Homo sapiens: one gene and its partners. The protein of the gene in region 6 interacts with the protein of the main gene of each other region in a pairwise test. Each region holds a gene or a part of one and is shown on either strand. Other genes may lie near its edges. The genes, in order: BOD1, CRLF3, LCE1D, SHOX2, CAMKK1, PIAS4 and NMT2.

Region 1 (4,256 bases), on a different chromosome or scaffold from region 6:
GATTGAACGAACAAACTCTCCCAGAGGGTGGTAGGCGTGCGTTTGGAACCAGATATTCCCCATTCGTTCTGTCTTTCATCTCTGTTGATATCTGTTTTACTGTTGGTTCAGAGTGGAGTCATCCATTTGGTTACTAGTATCTCTTGATTACATTTTACAGCTTCTTCCTCTAGAGAGAGGCTGTCAGCTCCAATCTGGGAAATCCCAGGGAATGTCTGCATTGTCTTAGCGTGGCTCAGGCACCCACTCCTGTGGCACCCTCTGCCCTACCCTTGTGAAGAGAGGAAGACAGTTACTAGAAAGAAGGCGTTACTAGGCAGATAGCACATGGTATCTGTGAATTTTACTCCTCTGCCCCCATTTCCTTGCCTTTCTCTTTTCCAGGTTTAGTGGAGTCTTTGAGTTTGCTCTCTCAACCTTTTGGAAGAGGCCAGTCATGGAATTGAGGCCTGCTGGTTCCTTTGTCAACTTCATTTCCCTGACTGTTAGCAAACTTTGCCGCAGTAATGCTGCATAGCAAACTGAATCTCAGCAGCTTATAACCAGCACTTGTTCACATGTTCATGGGGCGGCAGGTCTACCAAAGTTCAGCTGAGCTAGGAAGGCTTCAGCTGGTGGCTTGGCTGCAGGCTGCCCAGGTGTGGGTCCAGGCTGTGGGTTGATGTCAGGCCTGCTGCATGTAGAGTTACTTAAAAGCAAATGGAATAATATAAGTAAAGCGCCTGGCATTGTGCCCACCCACCATCAGGTGGGCACTTGTGTTAACCATTAATTCCTGACTGCCACATTGCATGGTGATCTTCATGCACAGTGGAAGTGTATTTAGACTTAATAACGTTTCTGTGAAAAGCAGTGTTCTGAGAGACTAAGTTCAAAACTTTGGTGCATATAACTTCTGACCTTGCCTCCTCTTTTTAACATTTTAGCCAGCTTACCAAAACCTGAGGCAGAAAGTGGATAATTTTGTGTCAACACATCTGGACAAGCAGGAATGGAATCCTACGATGAACAAAAACCAGTTGCGAAATGGTCTGAGGCAGAGTGTGGTTCAGTAAGTAAGCAGAATTTAAAGCTTTTGAAAAGGCAGTCATCACAAGTGTGATGCACAAGAAGGTTGAGGTCTCTGTTTAGTCAAGGTTGATGGGACTTTATATCAAGTATCACTTAGGAGTTGCAGCAGTCTGCTCTTTTGTTATAATTAAGGTTAAAGGAAGCAAAGTACTCAGTTGAAATTCCAGTTTCTGCAGCCTGTGAAGGCCTCCTGTGTGCATCTCTACTGGGTGCATCAAAAGGCATTCCAAATCGTGAGACATTTTCCCTGCTCTTTGAAGTTTCAGTGTTGTCCAAACATATATGTGAGTTTTATACCAAGATATCAGGGTTTGGATCTTGGGCAAGAGGAGTTGGATCTTTATTCTCACAGGTGAATGTGAACTAAATAAATTCTTTGAGTCCACCAGGACTGCCACCTCTAAAGTGTAATGGTGACAGCTTTCAGGAAGGCATAGTCTTAATAAAGTATCGTACTTCACAGTAACAAACTGAACCTTAGTTAATAAAGGTGCTATTGATAGCTTATCTGAGTGACGCACAAAAGTGGAGGTGGAGGAGGGTACAGAAATGGGAGAACACATTAGTGATTGCCTGGGGTTACGGATGGGAGGAGGGGGTGAGTGTGACTTGCAAGTGGTAGCACAAGGGGGAGCTTGCAATGGTGCAGTTAAGTGTCACTGAATTGTGCTGTGCTCACGTGCAACAGCTCGTATGGTAAAGTCGCACGGAGCTACACACACAAATAAGTGCAAGTGTAACTGAAGTCTAAATAAGGTCTGGATTGGACCAGTGTCATTTTCCTGGTTTTGATATTGCACTAGTTACGCAAGGTGCTGACATTAGAGCTGGCTGGGTGAAGGGTGCGTGTGGAACTCCCTGGACTCTTCTTCACAACTTCCTGTGAATATGCAGCGATTTTAAGATTTCTAAAGTTTTTAAAAGTGTTTTACTAACAAGCTAGTACTTCCAATATGGCTGAATGCTGGGAAGAAGCCTGATAGCAGAAGATGCCCAGTGCCTTGTCATTCTGGAGTCAGTACCGAGTGCCTTTCCCTTTCTCCAGAGAACAGACTGGTGGCACCGGGCTCTTTCAGAAAGAAGGGGACAGTAGCTGCCCCTTACTGAGCAACTCTTTATTACATGTCTGGCACTGGTCTTTACATATATCACTCATCCTCATGAAAAGCCTGTTTCACAGCTAAAGTCACTTGTGTTTACCCTGTCTTGAGTAAATCAAAACACTGAACATTCTGAAATATTTGGAAAGTTGCCATGATTGTATGAAGGCTGTTAACATTGCTTTGATTTCTGTAATGAGCATGGATGTCATTCTAGAGGTATGCATGTGGCGCTTCCTCTTGCATTTCTTTAGTAGGAATTGTAATACGGAAAAGTGCACAGAAGTTCAGTGAAACAGATAATTAGAACATCCCTTGATCACCCAGATCGAGAAATGGACTCACACCCCCGAAACAGCCTAGCTCCGGATGTACTTTCCTCCTTTCGGAAGTTTTCCATATTCCTGACTTTTATACTAATCATTTCCTCTCTGCATAGTTTTTACCACCTCTGTGAAGTTGTTGTTTTTTTTTTTTTCCCTGCTTTTTGATTTGACTTAGAATGTGTTTAACCTGAAAACATGAACTTGGCTTTAATACTGGGACATTTCTCCACAATTCTTGCTAGCATTTTGAATTTGAGGCAAAATCTACTGGAGTTTCGAAACGCAGACTTTCTGCTTGCCCCCAGGTGCTCTCCCCAGGTGGACACTGCAGGCCTTCAGAGCATTGGCTCACTGGCCTGGCTGTTCTGGCCCAGATGCTGTAACCCAGTGCCACAGCCTAGAGGGTTTAACAGGAAATTAGCCTGTGCTATTGCACTGAATTATGACGAATAACTCTTGTAACTGTACAATATTTGTTTTTTCCATCTTGTACATTGGGCTCCTGACAAGATTTTATGTTTTCCTCAAAAGTTTAAGAATCTCCAGGAAAGTGAGCTGCACTCCCTTGGTAGTTTGTTTCCCCTGATCAGGGGTTTTGGTCAGTTGGGGATGCTTTAACAAGGCGCCGTAGACTAGGTGGCTTGTAAACAATGGAAATTTACTTCTCACCATTCTGGAGGCTAGAAGTCCAAGACCAAGATGCCAGCATGGTCAGGTTCAGGGGAAGGCCTTCTTGCAGGCAGCAGACTGCCAACTGCTTGTTCTTCTCATGTGGTGGAAAGAGAGCTCGCTAACTTCCTGGGGTCCCTTTTGTAAGGGCATAAATTGCATTCGCGGAGGCTCTGCCCCCATGACCCGATCGCCTCCCAAAGGCCCTACCTCCAAAGGCCATCACATTAAGGATTAGATTTCAACATAGGAAGTCTGGGGGACACAGGCATTTAGTTGATAATATCAAGCTTTTACATCTGGTAAAGGACCCTGTGAATCCGACTCAGGAAGTGGTTTGGTAAAGTTGGAAAGGTATTGGCTTGTGACTGAGGAGAGGTGGCTTTCCTTTGTTAGCATCCCATAGCCGGATGCTAACTTTGCTGTATTTAACGATGCTCATCACTAAGGGCCGATACTGTCTAATGCCTGGTCTACCTGAAAATGTGCCCTTCAGTGCTCTAGTGGTGGTGTATTTACATCTAGGCTTCCTGTCGATAAGCTGTTAGTTACCATTGAATCCAGGGAGCACTTTACACACTAATCATCTTTCCCAGTTCACAGCCTGTTTCTTATCTTCTTTGTCATGATGTACATTTACTCATGTCTTTCCTTTGCTGTACCCTGACAGACCATTTGCCCACTTGCTGCCCAGCCTATTTTTACCCGAAGGCTTAAATGGCCTCTGAAGTCTCAAGTCTACGGGAAAATAAGTAAAACCTGCCCACATGCTTGTGATGGTATTGGAATATTTCAGTCCTTTGAGAAGAACACTTCACTTTGAACCTTACGGGCTATTTTCCAGACTGTCCAAATATGATTTGTTTCCTCTCACCATCATTTCCAGTACCCTGTCCCAAGTGTTTGAATATAGACATTGATATGCCCTGATTTTTGCTCTACTTCAGAAAGGATCGGGGATGTAATTTAGCCCTCTAGGAGCTTGGAACTAATTTGTTTGTCTATTTCTTGTTTGCTTCCAAGTTGCTTATTATGTGTTACAGGTAGCAACTACAGCTGAAGGCCATGGTGAATTGCTGGTGATGTAAAT
Region 2 (4,256 bases), on a different chromosome or scaffold from region 6:
GCAGGGCTGATTTTAAGAGATTTTGAGCCAGGCACAATGGCTCACACCTGTAATCCCAGCACTTTGGGAGCCTAGACAGGAGAGGAGGATCATTTGAGGTAAGGAGTTCGAGACCAGTCTGGGCAATGTAGTGAGATTGTCTCTAATTTTTTTAAAAAAAAATAGCTAGGCGTGCTGAGCACAGTGGCTCACACCTGTAATCCCAGCACTTTGGGAGGCCGAGGCAGGCATATCACAAGGTCAAGAGATCAAGACCATCCTGGCTAACACAGTGAAACCCCATCTCTACTTAAAATACAAAAAGTTAGCCAGGCATGGTGGCAGGCGCCTGTAGTCCCAGCTACTCGGGAGGCTGAGGCACGATAATGGCGTGAACCCAGGAGGCGGAGCTTGCAGTGAGCCTAGATCGTGCTATGGCACTCCAGCCTGGGCGACAGAGCGAGACTCCGTCTCAAAAAAAAAAAAAAAAAAATTAGCCAGGCATGGTGGCACACACAAGTTGTCCCAACTACTCAGGAGGCTGAGGTGGGAGAGCTTGAGCTATGATTGCAGCACTGCACTCCAGCCTGGGCAACAGAGCAAGACCCTGTCTCTTAAAAATAAAAACAAAAAAACAAGACAGAGTTTTTTTTTTTTTTAAGAAGTAGAATTATTGATGATTTTACTGAGCAGTGACTGTTATCTGTAGATGATTACCTACATATGTGATGGAGGGGAAAGGAAAGGATTTGTGATAACAAAAATCAGCCTACTTTTGGATTCTGAATAAATAGTGGTGCTGTTTTTGACAAAGGAATTGAAGGAGAAGGCGGGTGCTTAGTACGTAGTTAGGCATTTGGCTTGGGCATGGTGAGTTTGAGGTGCTTAAGATGGAAATACGGGTATGATTCTTAGGAGAGAGATCATACCAGGAGATGTCAGTATGGCAGTTAATGGCATATATATCAAATCTGAATCTATTGGAATAAGTACAATCATCAAGGGACACCGTGTAATGTGAGAAGAGCAGATGAAAGAGATTAGAACGCTAAGGGTCACCAACATTTAAAAGTCATTTGAGGAAAAAGGAGCTAGGGAAGGAGACTGAATTCCATCTCTTCTGCAGAATGAGTGCTGGGAGTGGTGTGGGAAAAAGGCGTGGATGATTCACATGGCTGTCACTCCACCTGGAAGTTAATCTTCTTTTGGTCCCACTTAGAATATAGTATGGGTGTTATCTTGACATTGCTGGTTACATTTTTGTCTTGTCTTCAATGAGAAGTGTTTATTTGCCACTGACCATAACAGTACTTTTGAGAAAATTCTAGCAGTACCATGAAATGTCTTTCCTTGGTGGCTTTGCATTTGGAAACAAACCCAGAAGCAGTGCACCACGGGCCAGGAGTGTACACTCATCACCCTGAGGACTGATCATTTGTTTTTATTTTAGAAGATAAATCCTGGCCGGGCGCGGTGGCTCGTGCCTGTAATCACAACACTTTGGGAGGCCGAGGGGGGCGGATCATCTGAGGTCAGGAGTTCAAGACCAGCCTGGCCAACATGGTGAAACCCCGTCTCTACTAAAAATACAAAAATTAGCTGGGCATGGTGGTGGGCACCTGTAATCCTAGCTACTCGGGAGGCTGAGGCAAGAGGTTGCAGTGAGCTGAGATTGCACCATTGCACTCCAGTCTGGGCGACAAGAGCAAGACTCCATCTCAAAAAAAAAAAAAGATAAATCCTGGCTGGGCATAGTGGCACATTCCTGTAGTCCTAGCTACTTGGGAGGCTGAGGCGGGAGGATCCCCTGAGCCCCAGAGTTTGAGGTTGCAGTGAGCTGTGATTATACATCACACTCCAGCCTGGGTGACAGAGTGAGACTCTGTCTCAAAAAGAAAAAATCCCTTTGAGGCAGTGTGAGTGTTACAGCATTTGATACTTGAATATTTTTGTATGTCCAAAATTTAATTTAATTAATTAACTTATTTATTTTTGAGATGGCGTGTTGCACTGTTGCCTGGGCTGGAGTGCAGTGGCACGATCTCAGCTTGCTGCAGCCTACGCCTCGCAGGTTCAAGCGATTTTCCTGCCTCAGCCTCCCGAGTAGCTGGGATTATAGGCGCCCGCCACCACGCCCAGCAAATTTTTTGTATTTTTAATAGAGACAGAGTTTCACCATGTTGGCCAGGCTGGTCTAGCACTCCTGACCTCGTGATTTGCCCACCTCGGCCTCCCAAAGTGCTGGGATTACAGGCGTGAGCCACTGTGCCTGGCCTATGTTTTTTAATTAAAAAAAATTATTATACATCTCAGCAGCAGAAGGAAACTTTAGGAATATTTTTAATGTCAAACTCTTTCCTATTCTCCTGAGGGATAGAAACTTACTTATGGAATTTTGAGGATTTTATTTATTTATTTACTTATTTTTGAGACAGAGTCTCACACTGTTGCCCAGGCTGGAGTGCAGTGGCACGATCTTGGCTCACTGCAACCTCCACCTCTCGGGTTCAAGCGATTCTAGTGCCTCAGCCTCCCTAGTAGCTAGAACTACAGGAGCGTGCCACTATGCCCAGCTACTTTTTGTATTTTTAGTAGAGACGGGGTTTCATCATGTTGGCCAAGCTAGTCTTGAACTCCCAACCCCAGGTGACCCACCAGCCTCAGCCTGCCAAAGTGCTGAGATTATAGGCATGAGCCACAGTACCCGGCCATGTCTCTGTTTTTCTTTTGGTGAAGGAGAAGGTCATATGGTCTCAAAAAACTTGAGTAACTACAGGGCACATTTAGATGGAAAAGAGTTCTGGCAGTGTTCTTCAGGGCTGTGGAAGGACATAGAAGTTGGTCATTTTCATATCATATGCCTCTATGTAACTTTTTTTTTTGGCGGGGGGGACGGAGTCTCGCTCTTTTGCCCAGGCTGGAGTGCAGTGGCGTGATCTCGGCTCACTGCAACCTCCATGTCCCGGATTCAAGTGATTCTCCTGCCTCAGCCTCCCTAGTAGCTGGGAATACAGGCACCTGCCACCACACCCAACTAATTTTTGTATTTTTAGTAGAGACAGGGTTTCACCATGTTGGCCAGGATGGTCTTGATCTCCTGACCTCGTGATCCACCTGCCTCCGCCTCCCAAAGTGCTGGGATTACAGGCGTGAGCTACCGCACCCAGCCTGACATTTTCTTTTTATTGTTCTGTTGAATAATTTGTAATCTGATATATGATACTCTTTTAGGAAAACATAGATGCATCATTTGGCTTTTCAAGCCTTATGCCCAGCCTGGGCAACATAGTGAGACCTCATCTCTACCAAAAAAAAAAAAAAAAAAATAGCTGGGCATGGTGGCGTGCACGTGTGGTCACAGCTACTTGGGAGGCTGAGATGGGAGGATTGCTTGAACCTGGAAGTTCAAGGCTGCAGTGAGTTATGATCCTACCACTGTGCTCCAGCATGAGTGACAGAACAAGACCCAGTCTCAAAAAAAAAAAAAAAAACACCCTATCCCCTGTTGCACCTCTCAGGGCAATATTTTGTACTGGCTCCTATTGAAGTTCATAATGATTCTGTAGGAGAGATGGAAAGAAGTCCCTGGGCTTTCTGCTTTGCCTAAAATTGGTTGATTTCCTTGTATAGAGTAGATAGATTTTTCATCTCTGGCAAAATGTTGCCACTGTATATCCCTTTTCCTCTTGGATTTGATCTTAGAGTCACGTCTAAAATAGTTTCTACTTTAACTTTTTGGGAATTTGACTGTGGCATCACTTAAGAACTTATTTGCAAGAACGCTAGAGACCCACCCAGACATGAGTTGTGTTGATTACTTTATATGTGACCATTTTCATTGTTCTAGTTCTCTTATTCTTGATTGTAGGTGAAATCGCCATGCTTGGTGGTGTGGGAGAAGAGAATGAGAAACTGTGGAGCTTTACCAAAAAGGCCTCGCACATTCAGTTGGACAGGTAAAAGAGTTTGTGCCTTTTTGACTTACTTTTAAGCATTTAAACTATGTCTGCTTTTTTCCTCCCTCTGTTCAAGATTCTCATTAAGGGAGATAGAGAATATATATTTCAAGGTTTTCAGACCATGCGTGGTGGTTTACACCTGTAATCCCAGCACGTTGGGAGGCCAAGGCGGGTGGATTGCTTGAGGCCAGGAGTTTGAGACCAGCCTGGCCAACATGTTGAAACCCTGTCTCTACTAAAAATATAAAAATTAGACGGGCATGGACCTGTAATCCAGCTACTTGGGGAGGCTGAGACAGGAGAATTGCTTGAACCCAG
Region 3 (4,197 bases), on a different chromosome or scaffold from region 6:
AGGCCACGGCATGCACTGCAGGGAGAAGCATAATCAAAGTACAGAATATAATCCAGTTCAGTTTCAGAACATTTCTGAGAGTAGATGACAAAGGCTTAAACTAAAGGGAGAACACAGAGTCTTATTTCACTGAAGGAATTTGGACATTTACCCTTATACAGTGTGCAATCATGAACAAGACTTTACTAATGATTTAGTGTTAATTATGTACAGGGATGGAAGATGTTTTCTTGGATGTCATAAAAGAACAGAATCAAAGACACACTACAGTGTTTGGAGATACTACGTTATCACAGGAGTCTGGGCAGCTGTAATAATTGATGCTCTGAGACAGGTGGTACACACACATATACATCTCTCTCAATATGTATGCTCTGTATATGTGTTTATAAATATACATGTATCTCCACCACGTTTTGGTTAGGGTCACCATGTCCATTTTGACCTAGATATCATTCCCAAGTTCTGGGCATATCCAGAGTCTGTCAGGGGCTGGGAAGAAGAGGACTTGTCCCTCATATGGTTTAATCTGGCTTTTCTTGGTCTTCCTCTGAAGAAATAGTTTAATTTGTGGATAACCTTGCAGTCATGGCTGTCTTAGTGACTAGTGTGTCCTAGAATGAACAGCAGCCCATTTCATTAATATCCTAAAAATGTATAAATTCAGAACACTCCATTCATATAAATCCTGTGGACATGTAGAAAGCTAGTGATTCTAGTGGAGAGAGAGGAGAGGGGCTTCCAAAGTAGCAGCATAAACACATTCACATTAAATATTAAGGACTCTTGTTCTTAAAAGGCACCCGTCCCCTTATGGTCCAGGACGGGGTTCTGCCAGCCATTTGACCCCACATGGAAGCGTAGACTTATAATGTCTCACAACCATGTCTCTTTTCTTCCTGTTTCTCATCTGTGACCATCATCCGGTGCTCCCAGTGTGAACCCAGAAAAGTCCAAATTCTCACACCAATACAAAGAGCAGAGCTGCTGCTTCTTGTTTCTCTAATGAGCTGCTTCCTTGTTCACATCTCAGTGCTGACACATCAAGGACCCCACCAGAAGAAAAGGGCTATTTAAAAGCAAACAGATCACCAAACAGCCAGACTCACTCTCATTAGAAAAAAGCTGTGCTTCGTTTGTTAAACAAAGATCAGTATCTTCATTCTGTATTCAGCAAGTTATGAATGTTTCACTTATTCAGAGCCTACAATGTTTCAGTCTCTCTGTCAGGCACATTTTCTCTTTTTTGTGTTACTTTATTGACTTTCACAACCAACTAATTCTTCTGTAACTAATTCTTTTTCATCTTCCAGCTTTATGGTTTAAAAAATGGTACAGGCTAAATAGTTTCAACAGTCCCATCTCGCAGGGCCTGGTCCTGGGCCGGGTTATACTTCCAGGGTTTTACTTGTGTAGATGTCTACACTGCACCCACAGCCACACAGTTTGGTGGTGCACAGGGACAGAAATAAACATGCATGGAAACCTCAGGGATTAGTACTTCAACTTCAACCCAGGCTGCACGGAGCATCAGGTACTTCGGAAGAGACAGAAATGAGATAGGTCCTAAGTTCTAAGACTGAGAACTGAGAGGCTCTCAGGGCAAGCAGCCTTCAAGTGAATGAGGTAGGTGATGGTAGGAGTCATCCTGGAACCCCGTTTCAAGTAGGCACTTTCCTACCTGGGAGTGGCTGCCTTGAGCCTGGGGAGAGAGGCAGGTGAGGAGCTGTCAGTCACCAACCATCACAAGACCCACGTGGGTGTCAGAAGGAAGGTCCTCTCATGCCCAGGCCCTGTCTCACAGCTGGGGCAGAGCCCAGGCCAGGATAAAAGGGCTCAGGGCCAGACCACCCCATCCACTCACCTCCTGAGGTGCTAAAGAACCCTGTGCTGCCTGTGACTCCGGTAAGAACAGAGCAGGGATGCTCAGAACAGAGCAGGAGGGAAGGAGGGGCAGGGCCTCCGGGGCTAGGGCCATGTTGTCAGAGGTGGAGAGTTTAGAAAAGACTGAAGGGGCGGGGGCCAAAAGGGGTCTGGCACTAACTGGGAGCAGGAAGGAAAAGAGGAAAAGAGCTGGCGGGCTGTGCCATGTGCCTTTGAACTCTAGAGGAAACAAACTGCTCTGGGATGAGGTGGGTGTTCCAGAGTGGGAACTTTGAAGCACAGAGACCTGCTCCACTCTGGCAGCCCACAGGAGGGAAGCCCACCTCTGAAGATACAACCCTGTCTCTGCCTGCAAGGGAAGAACTGGAGCTGTGGACATGGGACTAAAGACTCTTTGGGGTTTATGAACCCCACATTTTCATGGGTCTGAGATTTGTTCACAAACTTCCCAGCTTGGTTAGGACACACCAAGCCTGAGACCCACCGTGTCATCCCATCAGCCTGAGCAGGTGGTGAGTGAGGAAGTCTGAGCTCCAACCTGAGATCAGGGGGTCAGGGTTCAAGTACTAGTCTGCAGAAACTGCTAAGTTTATCTGTCTCTATTGAAGTGAGTTTACTGACCTAGTAGTCTCCAAGATCCTGCACAATGCTGACCTTCCAAAGTAAAATCGTCTTGCAAATTATGACCAGAGAGAATGACTGCTTCTTCTCCTTTAAAAATAATTTTCTCTTAAATGACTCATAAATTAGACAATTTCAGTCTTAAGATATATTTGTAATAATTTCTTCCTCCACTGACAACACATCAGAATCTTAGATGCATTTTGCAATATTGTTTAGTCTTAGTTTACAGTTGTCTGACATCCAAAGATATCTTGAAAAAGATGATGTGAGATTTTGAGGAAATTATTGGAAATAAAACTACTGAAGATGATGCTTTTAAACTTGAGAGGTGCTAAGAGTGTCACAGGGGCAGAGGTGGCCTCTGCCTGGGTCTGACTTGTTATTTGACTCTCCCTCAGCTCCTGAACACCCACCACCGAGATGTCCTGCCAGCAGAGCCAGCAGCAGTGCCAGCCCCCTCCCAAGTGCACTCCCAAGTGCACTCCCAAGTGCCCCGCCCCTAAATGTCCCCCTAAGTGCCCTCCAGTCTCTTCCTGCTGCAGTGTCAGCTCCGGAGGCTGCTGTGGCTCCAGCTCTGGGGGCGGCTGTGGCTCCAACTCTGGGGGCTGCTGCAGCTCTGGGGGTGGTGGCTGCTGCCTGAGCCACCACAGGCGCCACAGGTCCCACCGTCGCAGACCCCAGAGCTCTGACTGCTGCAGCCAGCCCTCGGGGGGCTCCAGCTGCTGCGGTGGGGGCAGCAGCCAGCACTCTGGAGGCTGCTGCTGAAGTGGACCTTGACTTCCTCTTCCTTCTGATTCTGCCTGAATAGCTGAGAGGTTCCAGCAAAAGCTTGAAGTCTTGCCTGGAGAATCCCTCTGCTCTGGTGTCAGGAAACCCAAAATCTTTCTCCTTAATGGCATTTAGAGACTTTCTTCTGCAGATCCATGGCTGCCCTGGGAACTCCAAAGCACACACCTACTTCCTCCCCAGCTCACGCTACTGTATTCTGTGCTGCCTGAACTGAAGAAATAAAATCCAGAATCTGCTCCCCAATTTGCTACCAGCCTGCTTGATTTTCCTGTTTGTGTCATCCTTGTTCTGCTCCCCTGTGTCTGCTGGTGGCTGCTGAGGCCTTGGTGGACAGAGGATGGGGAAGGGGTCAGGAGGAAAAAGCTTGCATTTCTGTGTGTTTTGTGTTTTTTCTTCTTTCTGTGTTTTCCTTTTAAACCAAGGGACTGAAATAGCATTGAGAAATATTTTTCTTTCAAATTCTGGTTCCTTTCACCTATGTAACCGCATCCCTCAGGCATGGCCAGGAGGCCGACTTCATCCTCCTTCTCACTGTCACCTCTTCACTCTTGTGTTCCTCGTTCCCCACTCCTTCCACTAACAATCTCCCCGGACTCCTCCTTCAGATTGTATGTACACGTAGTAGACATATAAATATATGTGTGTGTACATGTATATATATACACACATATTTATATATACTCACATTATATGGAATAAATCTTTAGTTTTTAAACTTAAATCACTTTTATTGATCTATAACTTTCACACAATAAAACCCCTTTTTAAAATAAACAATTCAATTAGTTTTACCAAATGTATACACTCTTTTGTAACCACAATTGCAAGGAACACTCTAAAAATGTAGTTGATTATTTATTAATCATTATTTGCAGTAAGGTTTAAAAATAGGCTATAAGT
Region 4 (5,037 bases), on a different chromosome or scaffold from region 6:
CCAGAAGGCTGGCTCGTTCTCAGGCCAGCTCTCACCACCGCTGGCTCTCTGCCTACCGCAAACTTGCTGGTCTAATTTAGGAACAATTGGGCCGAAAGGTATCAGCGAGAGCAACAGACCCCGGTGTTGTGCCGCACAGGGAGCCGCATCCGCAGACGCCCCTCGCTGCCCCTGGGCTCGGGCCAAACCCTGCATAAGGTCCCCTGGACAGCCAGGTAATCTCCGTCCCGCCTGCCCGACCGGGGTCGCACGAGCACAGGCGCCCACGCCATGTTGGCTGCCCAAAGGGCTCGCCGCCCAAGCCGGGCCAGAAGGCAGGAGGCGGAAAACCAGCCTCCGGTGGCGGGCGAAAGCAACCGCTCTTTCTGTTCTCTCTTCGCCCTCCCTCGTGGAAACGCAGACTCGACCCTAAACGCTTAACCCACAGAGATCAACAGGTTCAAGCGGAATATTCGCGATCCTCGGTTTCTATTGGTTGCTCAAAGCCTTTTCATGCAACCAGCAGCTCGGATGTTTAATAAAATATGAATTTTTCTGCTCTGGGTTTGCACACATCCGTTGCCACTTTCCTGTCCTTCTCCTCCCTTTAAAAACAGGAGCTCTTCTAGTGTGAGCATATACAGCCACCATATATATATCCCCCTGGAACCTTTATCCTCTGCGCCCGAATCAGAGACTCCGGGTTTTAAGAAGTCAAAGCTGAGTTTAGATAGTCGAGGCTGTTTGCAGTTCTTCCCAGCGCAGGATCCAGGCCAGCATGGGTGTTAAAAATCATTTCCGGAAGAGCCGGTCTGCAGAGAAATTAATACTTGCCCTGAGCTTGGAAATCAACAATCCCAGGAACTGCGCCCGCCGGGGGTTCAGACCTGAACCTCGCCGTCAGGCGCGCTGGCGAACCTGTAGTTCGGGCCTGTAGTTGTGGACTCATGGCCGGGAGGCTGCACTGGGCACCTTGACGGTAACTCCACCACTTTACAAATTTAGGAAGACCTGGTGCTGGTTTGGAGGAAGAAGAGTCGCTAGATCTCGGCCCTGCCGGGCATTCTAGCTACGGTGATCTTAAATATTGCCGTATTTTCTAGTTCTCAGAGTTAGTTTTGTGGACATTTGTCCTTTCTTTAGGAAGGAACATTATAGTAAACATTATGGGCCAATTTAATAGCAAAGTATTTTTACTGATATTGTATTGAAATTTAAATATGAAAACACACCCTTCAAATTCTGCCAATGAGGTGGGAAGGCTTTGTCTATTACATGTCATCTACACAGTGGATGCCACTCAAAGTTTTGGGGCTTCGAGGAGATGTCCAAATTTCAAGTTGATCCATAGACTTAATAAAATCTCTATTTTTGTCCCCAAATTTCCAATTACTGATCTAAACAGGAACAGACCGTGTCATAAACAACTTAATTGCTTGCTTAAATATGTGATTCCACGCATGCCACATATTTTCTTAATTGGAAAAATATGGCAGTACACCAGTTACTGCAGGCACCAAGTGCCAAATCAATTTTATTGTTGAACTCCTTTGAATTGGTATAGAACGCTCTGCCATTGAGATAAAGACGTTTCCTAACACTGAGCTAGCACCAAAGGATTTTTGCTCTAAGAGAACCGAGTACTGGGTGATTGAAAACACTAAAGGAATTGTGTAAATATAGATCCCCACCTCCCCCGCCGCCCCCCCCCCCCGCCCCCAACACACCAAGAAACCGAAACGCCTCGCCCGGGAGAAGCAGCGTAGCCTGGACCTCAGCTTTCGTTGGCTTCCTTCTACCTTGAAAGAGAATGGGAAGTTTTGGCCCCTAAGATCCAAAGATTCAGGGGCTCTGCGGAGTTCGAGGGGTCTTGGCGGCCCCAAACACCTAGGCGACCGGAGGGTTAAGCTTTCCACCTCTGCCCCTTCTCCCTCCCGGCAAACTCTGCGCTAGAGGCTAGCTTTAGTCCCGCCGTCTGGTTCAGCACCCCCTCCTGCAGCCCGGCCCCGCGAACTTCCACGTCCGCCTGCGGGCCATCCGGGCTGCGGGCCCATCCTCCCGCTGGTGAAAAATGCATTTCGGTGGAATGGGAACATCTGGGAAGGGCGCGCACAAACCCCACACGCTTCCCCCCACGCCACCCCCACAACACACTAGGACCCCACCCATGACCGAGCATACCACCGGACCCCCACCCTTCCACTATCACTCTAGCTGACAAAGCTGGGGTCCAGGGCCCTCTCCGTGTCCCTCTCCCCTCCCCGCTGGGCCTCGGAGTCCTCTCCCGCCCGAGAGGAGTCCGGAAGGCGGGAAGGGGAACCGCTGCCGGGGGTCAGTCAGGTCGTTACCCTCCGTCAGTCGCGGGCTGCCCGGCTCCCTGCTTCTCTCGGCGGCGCCCATGTCCAGCTCCCGGACGGGAGAGCGCCCTCCTCCAGCTCCTCCGCCTGCTCCTCCTCCTCCTACACCTCCTCCGCCTCCTCCGCCGCCGCCTCCGCCTCCTCCGCCGCCGCCTCCGCCGGCCGCCCGGACTGCCGGGCTGCTGCGGTCGTCGCGGCCCGCCTCGGTGCAGCCGGTCGGCTCCTTGGCCCCGCGCAGCGGCCCGCTCTCCAGCACCTCCCGGTACGTGATCGCCTCCTTCTTCTCCTTCACTTTCTGGTCAAAAGACTTGGAGACGAACGCCGTAAGTTCTTCCATCGCCGCCGCACGTCAGCCCGGCGCTCAACCTCTGCCAGCAGAGCCCCGCTCTTTTTTTCCTTCTTCTTTTTTTACTGCTCCAGCCCCCCCAATAATAACACATCAATGGGACAGGAGGTGGGGGAGGAGAGGGAGGAGGAGAAAGAAGAAGAAAAAGAGGAGAAGAAAGAAGAAAGAGGAGGAGAAGTAGAAGGAGAAAAAGAAGTAAGAAGAGGAGGAGGAGGAAGAAGAGGAAGAGGGGGAGAAGGGTGAAGAGGAGAGGGAGGAGGAGGAGGAGAAGAGAAGGGGCGGGGGCTGCCGGAGGGAAATGGGAACTGATGCTTCCCTGCCGGAGCGCGCTTGTTCAATGTTAAGATCTTTGACAATTCTTCCTGCGGAGAGTTCAGATCTGATAGCGACGCTGCGCTTGAAGTCCCACTATTTATACTTCCTAACGGCGGCCTCTTGTTTTGAGTAAATTACCTCCCCTCGCAACTCGGAGTGAGCCCCCTTCCCGGGTAGCAGTCGCGCCTCTACCGGGGGTTGGGGAGGGGAAAAGGAGAGAAACAGAGAGAGAGAGAGAGAGAGAGAGAGAGAGAGAGAGAGAGAGAGAGAGAAGAGGAGAGAGAGAGATTGGAGTTCGGGCGGGCTGGGGCTGGAGTGGTAGGGCAGCACAGGGGGACCGGAGGGGGCGGGGAGAGAAGGCCGGTCCCCGGCCGCTCAGGTTTTCAGATAGCCCCTGCCGCCTGTGCTCTTGGCCATTAATCCAGGATTGACAAGAATCCCTAATTAATTTAATTAGGCGTGGATTTTGCGTTGGTGTCACGACTTAGTTAAACACTGGGGAGCTGGATAGACCCCGCGGGGTGGGGCCAAGAGGAAACTGACAAGTGCGCAGCTCTTAGAGTCAGTCAGGTATCCCGACACTGCATCCTTCCCTACAGCCTTGCTTCGAGTCAGGGTGCCTCGCAATGCTCAGCTTCGCATTGCTTTTCCTCGTCCCTGCCCTGCATCAACCGCCCAGCAGTTTACAGGCCCCGCATCCCATTCCCGCATCCTGACCCCGCATCCCAATTCTGCATCCCCGCCTCTCCCTCACAATCCCACCCCTGCCGGCCGTAGCTCCACCGCCCAGCATCATCCTGCCCAGAGACAGGGTTGCCTGCACCTTCTCCGACCCGCGCAGCTTCTCTTAGGAGCTTCCCGGCTCGCAGGCAGGCTGAGTCCGGGTCTTCTCCAAGCTCCTCGCCCCTCGGTCCGTGTTATTCGCTCTATTATTCGTGTCCTGGAGCCCAGCTGACTCCTCTATGGACAGACCCCGCTAAAAGGGACCAGTCGATTTAACAAGTTTCCCCAGCAGCTGTTAGCTGACAGATCTCATTTTAAAGTGTTTCCTTAGCGCCCGGTCAAGGACAGCTCGACTTCGTTCGTTTCCTCTCTGAGGTCTCAGAACTCCCACCCTTCTCCCTTACTCTCTGCACTCGGACCCCTCTATGGTGAATTACAGGACTTCTTCTTTAGCATCTTGGGAAACATCCGAGTTTATTTACTAATTTGAAAAACAAGAGATTATCCCTCTTCGAGTCTGAAAAAAAAATCGACGTTAAGTTTGTACCCCCTCTAATTTCATTTATTACGGAGAGCTAAAAAAGAGACGCTCGCCAGGAGTAAAGGTCTCTCTGCCTACCCCCCCCACCACCCCGCTTACGATTTAAAATTCTATTTCTGGGCTATTTTCATCGGAACGGTTTGTTACGTTAGAGGAACATCTATATTCCTGAGTCATTTGTCTGTATTGTGCCGGACAGGGCTTGCTGTGAGAAGTGTGGCTATGCAAATACATACTCACAAAAGAATATTTACATATGATGTTATATTTAAGTGTGTAAACAAATATACCTCTAAGTGTGGCTTAGGGGACATTTTCAAGTACTCTGAATATTAATGCAGACTTTCTGGAAGTTAAAGGTAACTTGATCATTATTTTGGATCTAATACTCTTAGTAAAAATAAGAGGAATTACAGAACATTAATATGTATATCTTCCGTATATTGGTTAAGGCATCAAAACAAATTAGCAGATAATTTAAGAAGTTCCGTCAAAACAACCTGAAACACTTGCAAAAAGAGAACACAATTATAACTTAATATATTAGTGTTTCTCAAATAGATGTAGATAGAAGCTGGATATAACCTTATGTTATACTACAATACTCACATTAAAATGTTCATGTTTGGTGAGTTTAAGGATTATGTATATCATGCTTTTTAGAAACGTTGTTTTCCCTTTTTAAAACATTTCATTTTTTGCCACTTTTAGGAGAGCTAATGTCTATAATTTTTCCGCAGCTATAGCTTTTAGGTATGAATACATTGTTATCAGTA
Region 5 (4,256 bases), on a different chromosome or scaffold from region 6:
AAGTCTGGCCCTGTCCTCAGAGGCCTCAGCCACATCTGCCACCTGGGCAAGATCCCTGGGTCTGTGCTAGGGGCTCCCCAGCACCAGAAGCGGCTCCCATGAGACTCAGGTGCTGGTTCCCACCTGCTCACCACCACCCCCTACCTCGATCAGTTTGACCACATTCACGTGGTCCAGCTTCTTCAGGATGGCAATCTCCTGGTACACCCGCTCCAGGGGCAGCAGCTGCTTGGCTGGTCCTCCCTGGGCAGCCTGGGACCCTCTCGGGGGAGGGCGACCTGTGACCAGGAAGAGAACTCAAACACCTGTTCCAGGTGGCTGGGCCTCACCGTGGCCCCCAAACCAGTCTCAAGCAAGAGTCTTGCATGCCCGTGGTCTTGTCCCAACCCACAGGGCACATTCTGTCCCCAGGCCTCTGCTCACGCTGTCTCCCTCTCTACCCCATTCCTAGCCAAAACTAGCTCAGGATCGAGGTCTCCTCCTCTGCCTCCAGGCTAGGAGCTCCCAGGGACAGGATCAGAAGATACATACGTGGAAAGCCATACTGCTTCAGTAACTTCTTTTTGGAAAGGACTTTCATTGCCTAAGGAAGGAGGGACAGAAATGTCACTACTGTGCAGCCACCAGGGGCTAGAACAGGCTGGTACATGTGGACTGAGGTCCGGAGAGGCACACTGGACATCTGCTACTGGCCCTGAGGGTGTGGCCCAGGTAAGTGTTAAGCGGGGTTGGGGGTGGCCATATCTGAGCCTAGCCCTTCCCCTTATTCCCCCAGCAAGCCTTTCTGGAGCTTTCCCCTCAGAGGAATCCAGTCTCTGCTTGCATATCCCCAGGGTTAGGAAGCTCATTCCTTTGCATACCCCTAGGGACAGGGAGCTCACTCTCAGGCAGCCCTGTCCTCTATCTCCTAAGCACAACTCCTGCCCCACCCCTCAGGCTTCCAGGGCCTGGCTTGGGCAACACCTCCCTCGTATCCCCAGACTCACATAGTGTCTGTCTTCACTTTCGTTGTAGGCCAGCCTCACCACACCGTAGGCACCCTGCAGATAGGCATCAGTCAGCCCCACCTGGACAGGGCAACCCCTCCCAGGACCAGCTCAGGAGGTGGGGAGCCGAGCAGCTCTGGTCTCTCCTGCACCCCATCTGCACTACCCACCACCAGCTGGCTCACGGGCAAATATTGTAGCAGATGGGGAGGGGACTCCTGCGCCCTGGTAACTGCCCCTGCTTGGCTCCACATGGCTCCATGCCTCCCTCAGTCCCTCCTTGTCCACTGTCAAGAACTCAGAGAGTCGGGAATCAGGAGCCATCTTCCACCCTCCCCCTGGGTACCTGGGTACTTCCCACAGGGCACGAAACTGTCCTCACCTCCAGGCTAGGACTTGCCTGGCTCTGCCTCCCGTTCCCTCCCACACGAGAGAAGGAGCAGCGCCAAACAGAGAATCCCGAAGCCCCCACTGCTCTCGGCCTGCCCACTCCTACCTTGCCAATCTCACTCTGCAGCTTGTACTGGTTCAGCTGCACGCAGTCCTGTGGGGGAAGAGCGAGCACCAGGTGGAGCTGGGTCCGGAGGCAGCACTGCTCCTACCTCAGAGCCCGTTCAGGGTCCAATTCTGGCCATAAGCTCCTCATTCCCGGACCCCCAGGTCTCACCAAGCTTTTGAGTTTGGATGGGGAAGTTGGTGGTGCCATCGCCCCCGTATGTGACGAGAAGACGTGGCTCATGTTTGAAAACATGGATGGTGACGCCATGGCTGTGCCTTGTTCCCCAGAAGCAGTGGTGAAGGGAAAACGCTAATTCCTGTCTGGATTCTGGAGTCTGGAAGACCCTAATCCATGAGAAACCCATGAGCAACTATTTCCAGAAGCAGCTGAATGAGAAGGTCTAGACTCCAAGGACAAGATGAGGAGCCCTGGGCACAGAGGCTGAGAGCCTGGGTTCAGGCACAGAAAGCTCAGCCCCTGACATCTGTAGACTGCTTGGAACCTGAGTTCACTTTCAGACCTAAATGGCAAGAACTCCAGCAGAAGCCCAGAGGCTGGAGGCAGGCCGGCCGCTTCTGAGTCACAGCAGACTCTAAGAGGCAGAATTAGAGGCGAGGGGTGCAAGCTGGAGAAGAGTTAGGGGGGAAGGGGGACATAGCATCTATCTTCACATCTCTAAGAAGACTACATAGGGGACCAGGGAGAGACCTATTTCCTAGGCCTGGGCTGGGAGTGGGAATAGCAGGACTTAGGGAAGGCAGCCTTTGGCTCAGCTGGAGCTCCCCTGGTTGGGAAGAAGCTATATTGTTAGGTAGTGATCTCCCCAGCTCTGAGGGTATGCAAACCAAAGCTAGATAGCCGTGTGGCACAGACAGGGGCAGGAAAGAGTCTTCATTGCAGACTACTGAGGGGCTCATGAACAACCCCTCGTTCTGCCCCACCAACCTCTGCATCTGAGATGGCCACGTGGTGGGACTCGATGGTGGGCCTCCGCCAGGCCCGGGGGGAGATGTGGCTGGCAGGCCCCGTGGCATAAGGCCCAGCCTGCGCCTCCAGATAGCTTCCTGCTGGCCGCTCCTGTAGGGAAAGCTTCCTGGCTGAGAGGCTAGGCCGGGCTGGGAGCAGTCTTGAAGTACTGCCAGGGATCACAGAGGCAGCTCTGGCCCGTGGTGGGGGGTCCACACCGTTTCTAGTAGGCTCTGGGCCACCATCTGCCTCCTCCAAGTGAGTCACATCGATGGCTGCCACCCGTTCTACCAGCTCTGCCCGAGGATCCTGGCAGCAGACAGCTGGACCCCCCTCCATTGCTTCAGTCAAGGGGGTTCTTCTGCGTAGCCTTGTTGGGAACCTGAGAAAAGAAGGCAGAGAAGGCTTCACTCCTGGGTGTCAGGCTGGCTACCAGGTAAGGTAGCCACAGCGCTGTGGGTCCCACCTCCATGCCTTTGCCCTGGCTGTTCCCTCTACCGGGATTGCCAACACCCAAACTCAAGTCTGTCCCTATGACCTGAATGAATTCACATCGGTTCTGCCGCATGCCAGCCCTCTAGGCCTCAGTATCCCTGCCGGTAACAGAGGCAGTCACTTCTGCCTGCTGGCTTCACAGGGAAGCAGAGAGAATCTGATATTCTGGAATCAGGACAGACAGGGCAGAAGCCTGGAGGCCCAGCAGCACTGGAAGGGGCAGAGCCCAGGGTCAGCTCAGCCCCAGCACAGCATGCAGCCCTGTGAGTCATGAGTCCCAACCCTTGACAGCAGAGCACTCCGACACTGCCTCCTGGAAGCTGAGCTAGACACTAGTAACTCAGAAGCCTTGCTGATGCTTCAGACCCACCCGCCTCCTCCAGGGAGCCCTCCTTGATGTTTCAGCCTCCTACCCCCATCCCTCTCACTGCTTCCAGGAAGACTTCCCTGGGGCTCCCGACTCCAGCCAGCCCTGCCTCATTGACGTCTGTCAAAACAAGGGGATGGGCCCCACATGGTGGCTCACACTTGTAATCCCAGCACTTTGGGAGGCCGAGGCAGGTGGATCACCTGAGGTCAGAAGTTCGAGACTAGCCTGGCTAACATGGCAAAACTCTGTCTCTATTAAAAATACAAAAATTAGCCAGGCATGGTGGCGTGCACCTGAAATCCCATCTACTCGGGAGGCTGAGGCAGGAGAATCGTGTGAACTTGGGAGGTGGAGGTTGCAGTGAGCCAAGATCACGCCACTACACTCCAGCCTGGGTGACGGAGCAAGACTCGGTTTCAAAAAAAAGCAAGGGGATGAGAATGAGGGGAATGAGGGGTGAAACAGGGGCATGACATCCCCTGAGACTCATGTTCTCAAACTCACTGTGTGGCGGCTGAAACATCAGGGAGGTGACCCCCAGCCCTCACCTTCAGCCATGACCCTGGGCTACATCCTGACCCCGGACTGAACCCTGACACTCAGCCTGAGACCCCCATCTCTGTCCCAGGCTTGTAGAGCGCTGGCCATGCCCAACCTGATGCCCTTCCCCCTGCTTGCGCTGGACTCTGCATGTTCTCAGGAGAAGGAAGTGAGTGAACTCCTGACCCTCCATCCTTCCTGTCTGCTGGTAACTTCCTCCGAACCCACACAGCAACTGAGAACATGGGTCTCAGGGAGACCCAGAGTACGCATGGTGAAGCGCCTGCTCTACCGCTCGTTCCCCATCCCCTTGCTTTGACAGATGTCAGCGAGGCAGGGCTGGCTGGAGTCCACCGGCCACTGAGGAGCCAGGACTGGGTTCCAGTCCTGCCTGCTGACC
Region 6 (4,256 bases):
ACCTGGCCCTCAGCTGCCTGGTGGACCAGTGTTGCTTCCTCCAGGAAGCCACCTGCCCAAGTGACTTGGGGTCCAGAGTGATGGTGCCAGCCTGCCCCCCCACTCCCCCCAGCTGTCCTGACGTTCCTCCGCCTGGAAATGCCCCTACCACCCCTTATTGGCCTGAAACACCACTTATCTCTGCCCGCTTGGGAGCCACTTCCTCCTTCCTGACCCCCACCCAGACCCCCAGCCGGGGTGTGGAGCAGTGGGCTCTTCCTTCTCCCGTGGGGACGTGGTGGCAGCCACGTGCTGGCTCCCAGCAGCTCCCCTGCTTGAGCCAAGGCTGCCCCAGCCGCTCACTCCTCAGCTGAGTTTCCATCCTTGGATCCCAGCTCTGGCTACCCGGTGCCCGGGTGGACCCTCAAGCCTGGCAAAGGGGCAGCTAGGAGGGGATGCAGGTGCCCATCTGATTTTAAAGCAAACTCTCCCTCCTTTGTGTATGGAGAGACGTGCGCAGCAGGAAGGGTTCAAGTGAGGCAAAGGTGAGGACTTCCTAGGTGCAGCAAGAAAGAAATCCAGTGACAGAGAGGCTGAGCCTGGGGCCGGCTGTGGGAAGCAGCAGGAGACCCCTTCGGAGAGGAAGCCTGACCCCACAGCCCCCAGCACTGCGGGCTCTGGTCACTGAGGAGTTAAGCCCGGCCCCCACCCCGTGGGCCTAGAAGAGGCCTGCCCGGCCCCAGCCTCCTCCCTCAAGTTGGCCATGTCCCCACAGGCAGGGAAGGTCGGGGGCGGTTGAAAAAAGGGCCCTTTGAGGGAAGAGGGAGGTGGGGCGGGGTAACCCAGGACACAGAACCCTAACTTTGCCACTCTGTGCCTCAGTGTCCCCACTGGTCACACGGGTACATAGCCAGGCCCTCCATCCCCGAGCCTGGAGGAGGCTGGCCAAGGATGCCGGACTCCGTGGAGGGACCCCTCACCCTCCACGTCCTGCTCTGCAGAGGGGGTGCTGCCGGCTATCTTTCCTGACTTGGGGGGCTGGAGTGCACAGGAGGCTTCAACACGATGGGGCTCGCAGGCCCCTGGCAGTGCCAGCACTGCTCCAGGCTTCTGGACACCCAGGCAAGGAGGTGCCCTTTGGTGGTCAGGAACAGGGACCAGAGGCCTGGGCCTGGCTGTGCCAGGAGGGCAGTGCTCATGGGGAACTCTCTGGCCTGGGCACAGGGGCCTGGGCAGCTAGGAGGGGCAGCTGGAAGACCCTCTGGCCCACATTCTGCCAAGGGGCTGGGGTGGTGCCCAGATTCCACCTGAAAACAGCCACCATTCGGGAAGGGGGTGCGAGCAAACCCGGCTGGCCCAGAACCGCCCTCTCGTCAGCCTGGCAGGTGGTCCCAGTCCTCACCCACCTGCCTGACTCCCACTCCCAGCTCCAAATGACTCCAGGTTAGGCCTAGCCTCTCCATAAGACAGGCCTGCAGAGCCCACTGAGGCCTGGGCCCCAAGCATGTGGGGTCCAGAGAGATGTCCAGGTGCCCTCAAGATGGCTCAGATCTATTCTCCTGAAGACAGTGGCCACCAGAGAAGGCCAGCGACTTTCTGAGGCCACACAGCCGCCAGGCAGGGCTAACTGCTGTACGCTGGCTTTGTGCTGCGTGGCTGCTTGGGGTGAGGACTGATTTGCCTACCAGGCTTGGCAGGCTTTTTTTTTTTTTTGAGATGGAGTCTCACACTCTCACCCAGGCTGGAGTGCAGTGGCACGATCTCCGCTCACTGCAAGCTCTGCCTCCTGGGTTCACGCCATTCTCCTGCCTCAGCCTCCCGAGTAGCTGGGACTACAGGTGCCTGCCACCACGCCTGGCTAATTTTTTGTATTTTTAGTAGAGATGGGGTTTCACCATATTAGCCAGGATGGTGTTGCTCTCCTGACCCCATGATCTGCCCGCCTCGGCCTCCCAAAGTGCTGGGATTACAGGTGTGAGCCACTGCGCCTTGCCGGCAGGCTTTCTTTTAAAATTGCTCTGCGTGTCACTTAAAAAAAATTGTTTTCATTGTTACAAGGACAAAAGAGACCAGGTGCGAAAGTGGCCAAGACTGTAATCCCAGCACTTTGGGAGATTGAGGCAGGTGCACTGCTTGAGCTCAGGAGTTTACGACCAGCCTGGGCAACACAGCAAGATTCCATCTCTACGAAACATTAAAAAATTAGTTGGGGCCGGGCGTGGTGGCTCACGCCTGTAATCCCAGCACTTTGGGAGGCCGAGGCAAGCGGATCACGAGGTCAGGAGCTTAAGACCATCCTGGCTAACAAGGTGAAACCCCGTCTCTACTGAAAATACAAAAAATTAGCCGGGCATGGTGGCACATGCCTGTAGTCCCAGCTACTCAGGAGGCTGAGGCAGAAGAATCGCTTGAACCCAGGAGGTAGAGGTTTCAGTGAGCCGAGATCGTGCCATTGCACTCCAGCCTGGGCAACAGAGTGAGACTCTGTCTCAAAAAAAAAAAAAAAAAAAAAAAAAAAAATTAGTTGGGTGTGGTGGTGAACACATGTGGTCCCAAGCTACTCAGGAGGCTGAGGCAGGAGGATGGCTTGAGCCCGAGTTAGAGGCTACAGTGAGCCACGATCCCACCACTGCACTGTAGCCTGGGCGATACACCGAGACACTTTTTTTTTTGAGGTGGAGTCTCGCTCTGCAGCCCAGGCTGGAGTGCAGCGATGCAGTCTCAGCTCACTGCAACCTCTACCTCCCAGAGACCCTGACTCTCTAAAAAAAAAAGAAAAAGAAAAAGAAAAAAGATTAAACGGGGCCTCACCAACGTGAGGTCAGACCGCCGCCGCCCGTCTTCCTCCCACAGCAACTGCCTCCACGACCCTGGCCGTCCGTGACCCGCCAGGTCCCGCAGCACCCTCGGCCCCGCTGAGGCAACGAGAAGGGGCTGCTTAGACCACAGCTCCCTCTGTGCTCCTCTCACCCCTCCCGGCCTCTGTGCTGTCCCGGAATGAGGCTCCAGCTCTTCTGCTGCTTAGACCCCTGTGGGCTGGAGCACCTGGGGCCAGCAACACGAGGTGTGACCCCACAGGCCTCCGCACAGCAGCTCCCACTGCCAAGTGCCCCCTCTGCCATCCGTATCCTCCAGAGACCTCCCCAGCCACAGCCGGGGGGCCATGGACCCCCAGAGTGACAGGCGGCCCCTGATCGATCTCCTCCGGGTGCAGGGCCCCCCGCTTCACCCAGCACAGGGCGGGTTTCCAGGGTGGACTTGGCACCCCTCGGCCGAGGTGGCCTGAGCTGCTCACCCAGTGCCTTGCACAGCTCCGGGTGCTTTACCCCAATGGTCTTCAGCCTCTGCAGCAGCTCCGATGAGGTCAGCTGCCGCACCAGGTACAGGGCCACCGAGTAGCTCTGGGGACAGAAGGAAGGGGTCAGGGCTGGCAGGACGGGGCCGGGGTTGGGGGGCAGGGTGGGCACCCGGGCACGCACTCACCTTGCCGTAGTTCCCCCAGGTGACAGTGATGCGGTTGGTGGCCGAGGACAGGTACATGAGGTGGGTGAGGTTGATGGGGCGGCACGGCCTCTTGGGCTCCACCCCGGGCTTATTGGAGGGGTAGTAGCCCTGCAAGCAGATGGGCCGCTCAGCCTCGAGCCAAGAGCGGCTGGGAAATCCGACGGCCCCCACCCTCCCTCCACGCCCCCCAAACCCGTGCAGCCGACGCGGGGGCGGGGCATGCTCACCGGGACGGAGCAGTAGCTGTGGTTGACCTTCACAGCGATGTTGGGCGGGTACTGGTCCTCCTGAGGGCAGCTGGTGTCTGAGTAACAGATTCTGCAACGACAACAGGGACCATGGGGCGGGGAGGGGGCGCACAGGAGGGACTAGGCTGCTGCGGGGGTACACGAGTGGTAGCCAGGCGGCAGTGATGGGGGCACCGGAGAATGTGACACGGGGGGTATCAGGGCCCCCGGGTGTGGCCTGAGTGGGGGTCGGATGGTGATGTATCCCCAGACAGGGATAGACAGCAGGTGAGGAGAGCTGGGCTCTGCTGTTAGCAGGGGAGACTGAGAAGGGCCTGGGCCAGGACTGGGGGGCGGGGAGGGGCGGGTGGCTGGGGGTCCAGCCCTGGGGTCGCGGGCACACCTGGGCATACCTCAGGACGACCTGCACGGCTTTAACTCCGGGCTGCAGTTCCCTGTGGGTGTGGAGCAAACCAGAGGAAAGGAAAGGAGAGCTGAGTGAGGAGGGCGTGACCCCAGCCCACCCGACAAGGTGGAGACCGCCAC
Region 7 (4,256 bases), on a different chromosome or scaffold from region 6:
CCAAAGGAGGGCGGATCACTTGAGGTCAGGAGTTCAAGACCATCCTGGCCAACATGGCAAAAATCCATTTCTACTAAAAATACAAAAATTAGCCGGGCATGGTGGCAGGCGCCTGTAATCCCAGCTACTTGGGAGGCTGAGGCAGGAGAATCTCCTGAACCCAGGAGGTGGAGGTTGCAGTGAGCCAAGATCACGCCACTGCACTCCAGCCTGGGTAACAGAGAGATACTCTGTCTCAAAAAAAAAAAAAAGAAAAATACATAAGCATATGCCAAGAGGTCAAAAAATTAGTTACCATTTAAAAATGTTGGGCCCTATATAGCAGACCAAAACTAAAAACTCTACAGCCAAAGTCCTCTCAATGAGAAGTAGAAAAAGAAAAGCCTTCACATATTCTTAATGCATATAAAATAAAGACAATTTGAAATAAATTTGTCAATGGGAATTAAGAGCTATTGGAATCCATTCTGCAAATCTTTAGTAAGTTACAAACACATGCAAGGTACCAGGTATTGCAAGGATTGGAGACTGAAAGTGCTGTCTCCATGCACACAATCTACCTGTGAGTAGACAGGCAGACACGCTGTGTTCTGCAAACATGTTTTGAGGTGTGTCTTAGTTCAGCCTGCTATTACAGAATACGATAGACTGATTACTTAAAGAAAAGACATTTATTTCTTACAGTTCTGGAGGCTGGAAGTCCACCAAGATCAGGGTGCCAGCAGGGTCAGGTTTTTGGTGAGGGCCTTATTCTTGGCAGAGCAACAAAGCACTGGACTCTATCTCTTTATAAGCATACACTGATCCGATTCATGGGGACTCCACCCTTGTAAGCTATTTACCCCCCAAAGGTGCCACCTCCAGACACCATCACGTTGGGGATTTAGGCTTCAACATATGAATTGGCAGGGAGATACAATTCAGTCCCAGCAAGGTGCCAGCATTGTTCACTATGTCCTTCCCTGAAAACTCCCTTTGCCCACAGGTCTCACCAAAGGTGTGGCCCTCAGTGGCCATGTTGTACCACACAATTCTCTTCTACCCCTCCCTTTCCCTTCTCCATCACAGTGGACTGGATCATGCCTGGATAATCCCTTTCTTGGCCAGAAACCAGTGAGATCCTTTCTGGAGAATCTGAACTAAGGAACAGATGCTTGGGGCAGTCTAGTTGACAGAGACTGAGACAGAAAGGGAGAGAGGTTAGAAAGACAGATGGACCTTGGGTACTTGACTTTCTATAATGTTTAATTCTAATAAAGTCCAGCCATACTTTATTTTCAGATAACCTATTGTATATTTAAATAAAACCTCCTTAAAATATTTATTTATTTATTTATTTATTTATTTATTGAGACAGAGTCTCACTGTCGCCCAGGCTCACTGGAGTACAGTGGCACAATCTCGGCTCACTGCAGTATGTGCTTATAAAGTGATCTCCATCTCTCGGGTTCAAGCAATTCTGCCTCAGCCTCCCGATTAGCTGGGATTACAGGTGCCCGCCATCGTGCCAGACTGATTTTTGTATTTTCAGTAGAGATGGGGTTTCACCATGTAGCCCAGGCTGCTCTCGAACTACTGACCTCAGGTGATCCACCCGCCTCGGCCTCCCAAAGTGCTGGGATTACAGGCGTGAGCCACTGCGCCCAGCAAAATAAAACCTTTTACTCTAGCTGGTTGGTAGATGCTACACACACATTAAGCAACAGACGCAAAGACCCACATCTCCCATTTGTGATTGTGGACAAGGAACTCACCTCTAGGAGCCACAGCTTGGGGCAGGAGAATGAGGGTCTTCCCGAGCAGAGGGCTGGGGAGATGAGGTGAGAGCAACTGGGAAAGATGTCACGGGAAAGATACACTCACTAAGAGCTACAGGGCTTCCGGCAGGGGTCAGCGCCTTTGGTCATAGTGGCTGCGGAAGGCTTCATGAAAGAAAGGACATTTGGGCTGACCTTGAACTTAGAGAAGAGGAGAAGAAAGATCAGGAGACACTCTCAGAAGCAGAGGAAGCCATGACCCACAGAAAGGCGTGAGCAGTAACAAATTCCTCTTGGTGAACAATGATGTCTGACACTGAATTCAAAGTTGTTTTCTGCGCTACTCTGTAATCAGACCTCCCTCCCTCCCCATTAGCCACAAACGCTTCAGCAAATGCTGTGCACAATAGCTGGATTTTAGTGATTCCTGGGAGGAGGGTGGTGAGAGACACAGAACTGAAGATAACCGTGTTCCACCCAAGGTCAAATGTTGAAGAAAAAGAGCACCCTAAGGACACACAGGCACAAGGAGCCCGGTGATGGGGCAAGTTGGCTGCAGTGTGGGTGTGCCTGAGGACCATGAAAACTTAAGACCCCAAGAAACCCCCATGAACATGTATCAGCTCAGGCCATTTTGTTTAGATAGTAAAGGAAAGGTGCCAGGTGCAGTGGCTCACACCTGTAATCCCAGCACTTTGGGAGGCTGAGGTGGGGAGATTCCTTGAGGTCAGGAGTTCGAGACCAGCCGGCCAACGTGGTGAAACCCCGTCTCTACTAAAAATACAAAAATTAGCTAGGCATGGTAGTGTGCGTCTATAATCCTGCCTACTTGGGAGGCTGAGGCAGGAGAATCGCTTGAACCTGGGAGGTGGACGTTGCAGTGAGCAAAGATGACGACACTGCACTCCAGCCTGGGCAACAGAGTAAGACTCCATTGCAAAAAATAAAAAATAAAGGACAGGCGATCCCAGCATGTGAAAGGACATGGAAACCCTTTGGTAATAGAACAACAGGGAAAAAATGCCAGAAGCTTCTAGACTGAAAACAAGTTAAAACAGACAAAAAGAATAAGATTACCTATAAAAGACAGAGAAGCAGAGAAAACAGCATCTGGCCAGGCACAGTGGCTCACACCTGTAGTCCCAGCACTTTGGGGAACCGAGTCAGGTGGATCACCTGAGGTCAAGGTCAGGAGTTCGAGACCAGCCTGGCCTGGGTGACAGAGCGAGACTCTGCCTCAAAAATCAAAAAAAAAAAAAAAAAAAAAAAAAAAAACACAAAGAAAACAACATCTGTACCAGTAAATACTGGAAGATATTAAAACGTTTATGGAGTTTCAAGGAAAACGATTGTTATCATAGAGTCACATGCACACCCAGGCTATGTATTATGTGGGAGGGGAAAAGAATGGCATTTTCAGACATGCAAGAACTCAAAATACATCATCCACGCACTCTAAGAAAAAAAATCATGTGAGAATGCTGTTAAAGAAGAAAAAGACAGGATGTGTTTTATTTTTTACTTTTATTTTTTTGAGACAGAGTCTTGCTCTGTCGCCCAGGCTGGAGTGCAATGGTGCAATCTCGACTCACTGCAACCTCCACCTCCTGGGTTCAAGTGATTCTCCTGCCTGCCTCAGCCTCCCGAGTAGCTGAGATTACATACGCCCGCCACCACACCTGGCTAATGTTTTTTTGTATTTTTAGTAGAGATGGGGTTTCACCATGTTGTCCAGGCTGGTCTCGAACTCCTGACCTCAGGTGATCCGCCCACCCCGGCCTCCCAAAGTGCTGGGATTACAGGTGCGAGCCACCACGCCTGGCCGGGAGGATGTGTTTTATAAAGAACGATGGAAACCCATAAAAACAATAAAGCTGTCAGGAAAGTCTAAAATGTTTTTGTTAACAGGAATGTGAAACATGTAATAGTTAAGAAAAAAGTCTCTAGTGACACAAGGGCAAAAATAAAAGAATTACAATTCCAGGTTATTTCAATTAAACCTAGGAAATGAAAAGAAGTCAAAATATCCTACATGATTTTTCTTGTGAGATGGTAGAATATTTTAAATAGTGGTTAATTTTTTGATATGGATAAAGAAATATAGATGAAAACATACTTGTTCAAAATGTACAGATCGCCGGGCACGGTGGCTCACGCCTGTAGTCCCAACACTTTGGGAGACGGAGGTGGGTGAACTGCTTGAGTTCAGGAGTTCGAGACCAGCCTAGACAACATAGTGAGACCCTGTCTCTACAAAAATACAAAAATTAGCCAGGTGTGGTGGCATGTGCCTGTAGTCCTAGCTACTTGAGAGGCTGAGGTGGGAGGATCACTTGAGTCCAGGAGGTCAAGGCTGTAGTGAGCTGAGATTGTGCCACTGCACTCCAGCCCAGATGACAGAGTGAGACCTTGTCTCAAAAAAAAAAAAAAAAAAAAAGTGTACAGATAATCCACAGAAGAAAAAAAGAATGAAAACTAGACATATTCTACCAAAGACAG

Evidence for each region.
Region 1: the proteins of PIAS4 (region 6) and BOD1 interact in binary tests that used the Homo sapiens proteins (3 or more experiments, as listed by UniProt).
Region 2: the proteins of PIAS4 (region 6) and CRLF3 interact in binary tests that used the Homo sapiens proteins (3 or more experiments, as listed by UniProt).
Region 3: the proteins of PIAS4 (region 6) and LCE1D interact in binary tests that used the Homo sapiens proteins (3 or more experiments, as listed by UniProt).
Region 4: the proteins of PIAS4 (region 6) and SHOX2 interact in binary tests that used the Homo sapiens proteins (3 or more experiments, as listed by UniProt).
Region 5: the proteins of PIAS4 (region 6) and CAMKK1 interact in binary tests that used the Homo sapiens proteins (3 or more experiments, as listed by UniProt).
Region 7: the proteins of PIAS4 (region 6) and NMT2 interact in binary tests that used the Homo sapiens proteins (3 or more experiments, as listed by UniProt).

The regions. Positions count from the first base shown.
Region 1 is NC_000005.10:173,609,926-173,614,181, reverse strand, and holds part of BOD1 (biorientation of chromosomes in cell division protein 1), read left to right. Parts: intron 1-926; coding exon 927-1,051; exon of another isoform or gene 1,052-1,055; intron 1,056-4,256. UniProt on the Homo sapiens protein: Required for proper chromosome biorientation through the detection or correction of syntelic attachments in mitotic spindles.
Region 2 is NC_000017.11:30,796,990-30,801,245, reverse strand, and holds part of CRLF3 (cytokine receptor-like factor 3), read left to right. Parts: intron 1-3,847; coding exon 3,848-3,935; intron 3,936-4,256. UniProt on the Homo sapiens protein: May play a role in the negative regulation of cell cycle progression.
Region 3 is NC_000001.11:152,794,867-152,799,063, forward strand, and holds LCE1D (late cornified envelope protein 1D), read left to right. Parts: upstream 1-1,854; 5' UTR 1,855-1,905; intron 1,906-2,906; 5' UTR 2,907-2,928; coding exon 2,929-3,273; 3' UTR 3,274-3,315; downstream 3,316-4,197. UniProt on the Homo sapiens protein: Precursors of the cornified envelope of the stratum corneum.
Region 4 is NC_000003.12:158,103,352-158,108,388, forward strand, and holds the start of SHOX2 (short stature homeobox protein 2), read right to left. Parts: upstream 3,070-5,037; 5' UTR 2,674-3,069; coding exon 2,328-2,673; intron 2,091-2,327; exon of another isoform or gene 1,779-2,090; coding exon of another isoform or gene 1,707-1,778; intron 1,655-1,706; exon of another isoform or gene 1-1,654. UniProt on the Homo sapiens protein: May be a growth regulator and have a role in specifying neural systems involved in processing somatosensory information, as well as in face and body structure formation.
Region 5 is NC_000017.11:3,882,898-3,887,153, forward strand, and holds part of CAMKK1 (calcium/calmodulin-dependent protein kinase kinase 1), read right to left. Parts: intron 2,834-4,256; coding exon of another isoform or gene 2,791-2,833; coding exon 2,431-2,790; intron 1,531-2,430; coding exon 1,483-1,530; intron 1,041-1,482; coding exon 987-1,040; intron 584-986; coding exon 532-583; intron 279-531; coding exon 145-278; intron 1-144. UniProt on the Homo sapiens protein: Calcium/calmodulin-dependent protein kinase that belongs to a proposed calcium-triggered signaling cascade involved in a number of cellular processes. Phosphorylates CAMK1, CAMK1D, CAMK1G and CAMK4. Involved in regulating cell apoptosis.
Region 6 is NC_000019.10:4,028,055-4,032,310, reverse strand, and holds part of PIAS4 (E3 SUMO-protein ligase PIAS4), read right to left. Parts: intron 4,166-4,256; coding exon 4,124-4,165; exon of another isoform or gene 4,122-4,123; coding exon of another isoform or gene 4,114-4,121; intron 3,802-4,113; coding exon 3,711-3,801; intron 3,592-3,710; coding exon 3,463-3,591; intron 3,381-3,462; coding exon 3,275-3,380; intron 1-3,274.
Region 7 is NC_000010.11:15,158,079-15,162,334, forward strand, and holds part of NMT2 (glycylpeptide N-tetradecanoyltransferase 2), read right to left. Parts: intron 1,959-4,256; exon of another isoform or gene 1,755-1,958; intron 1-1,754.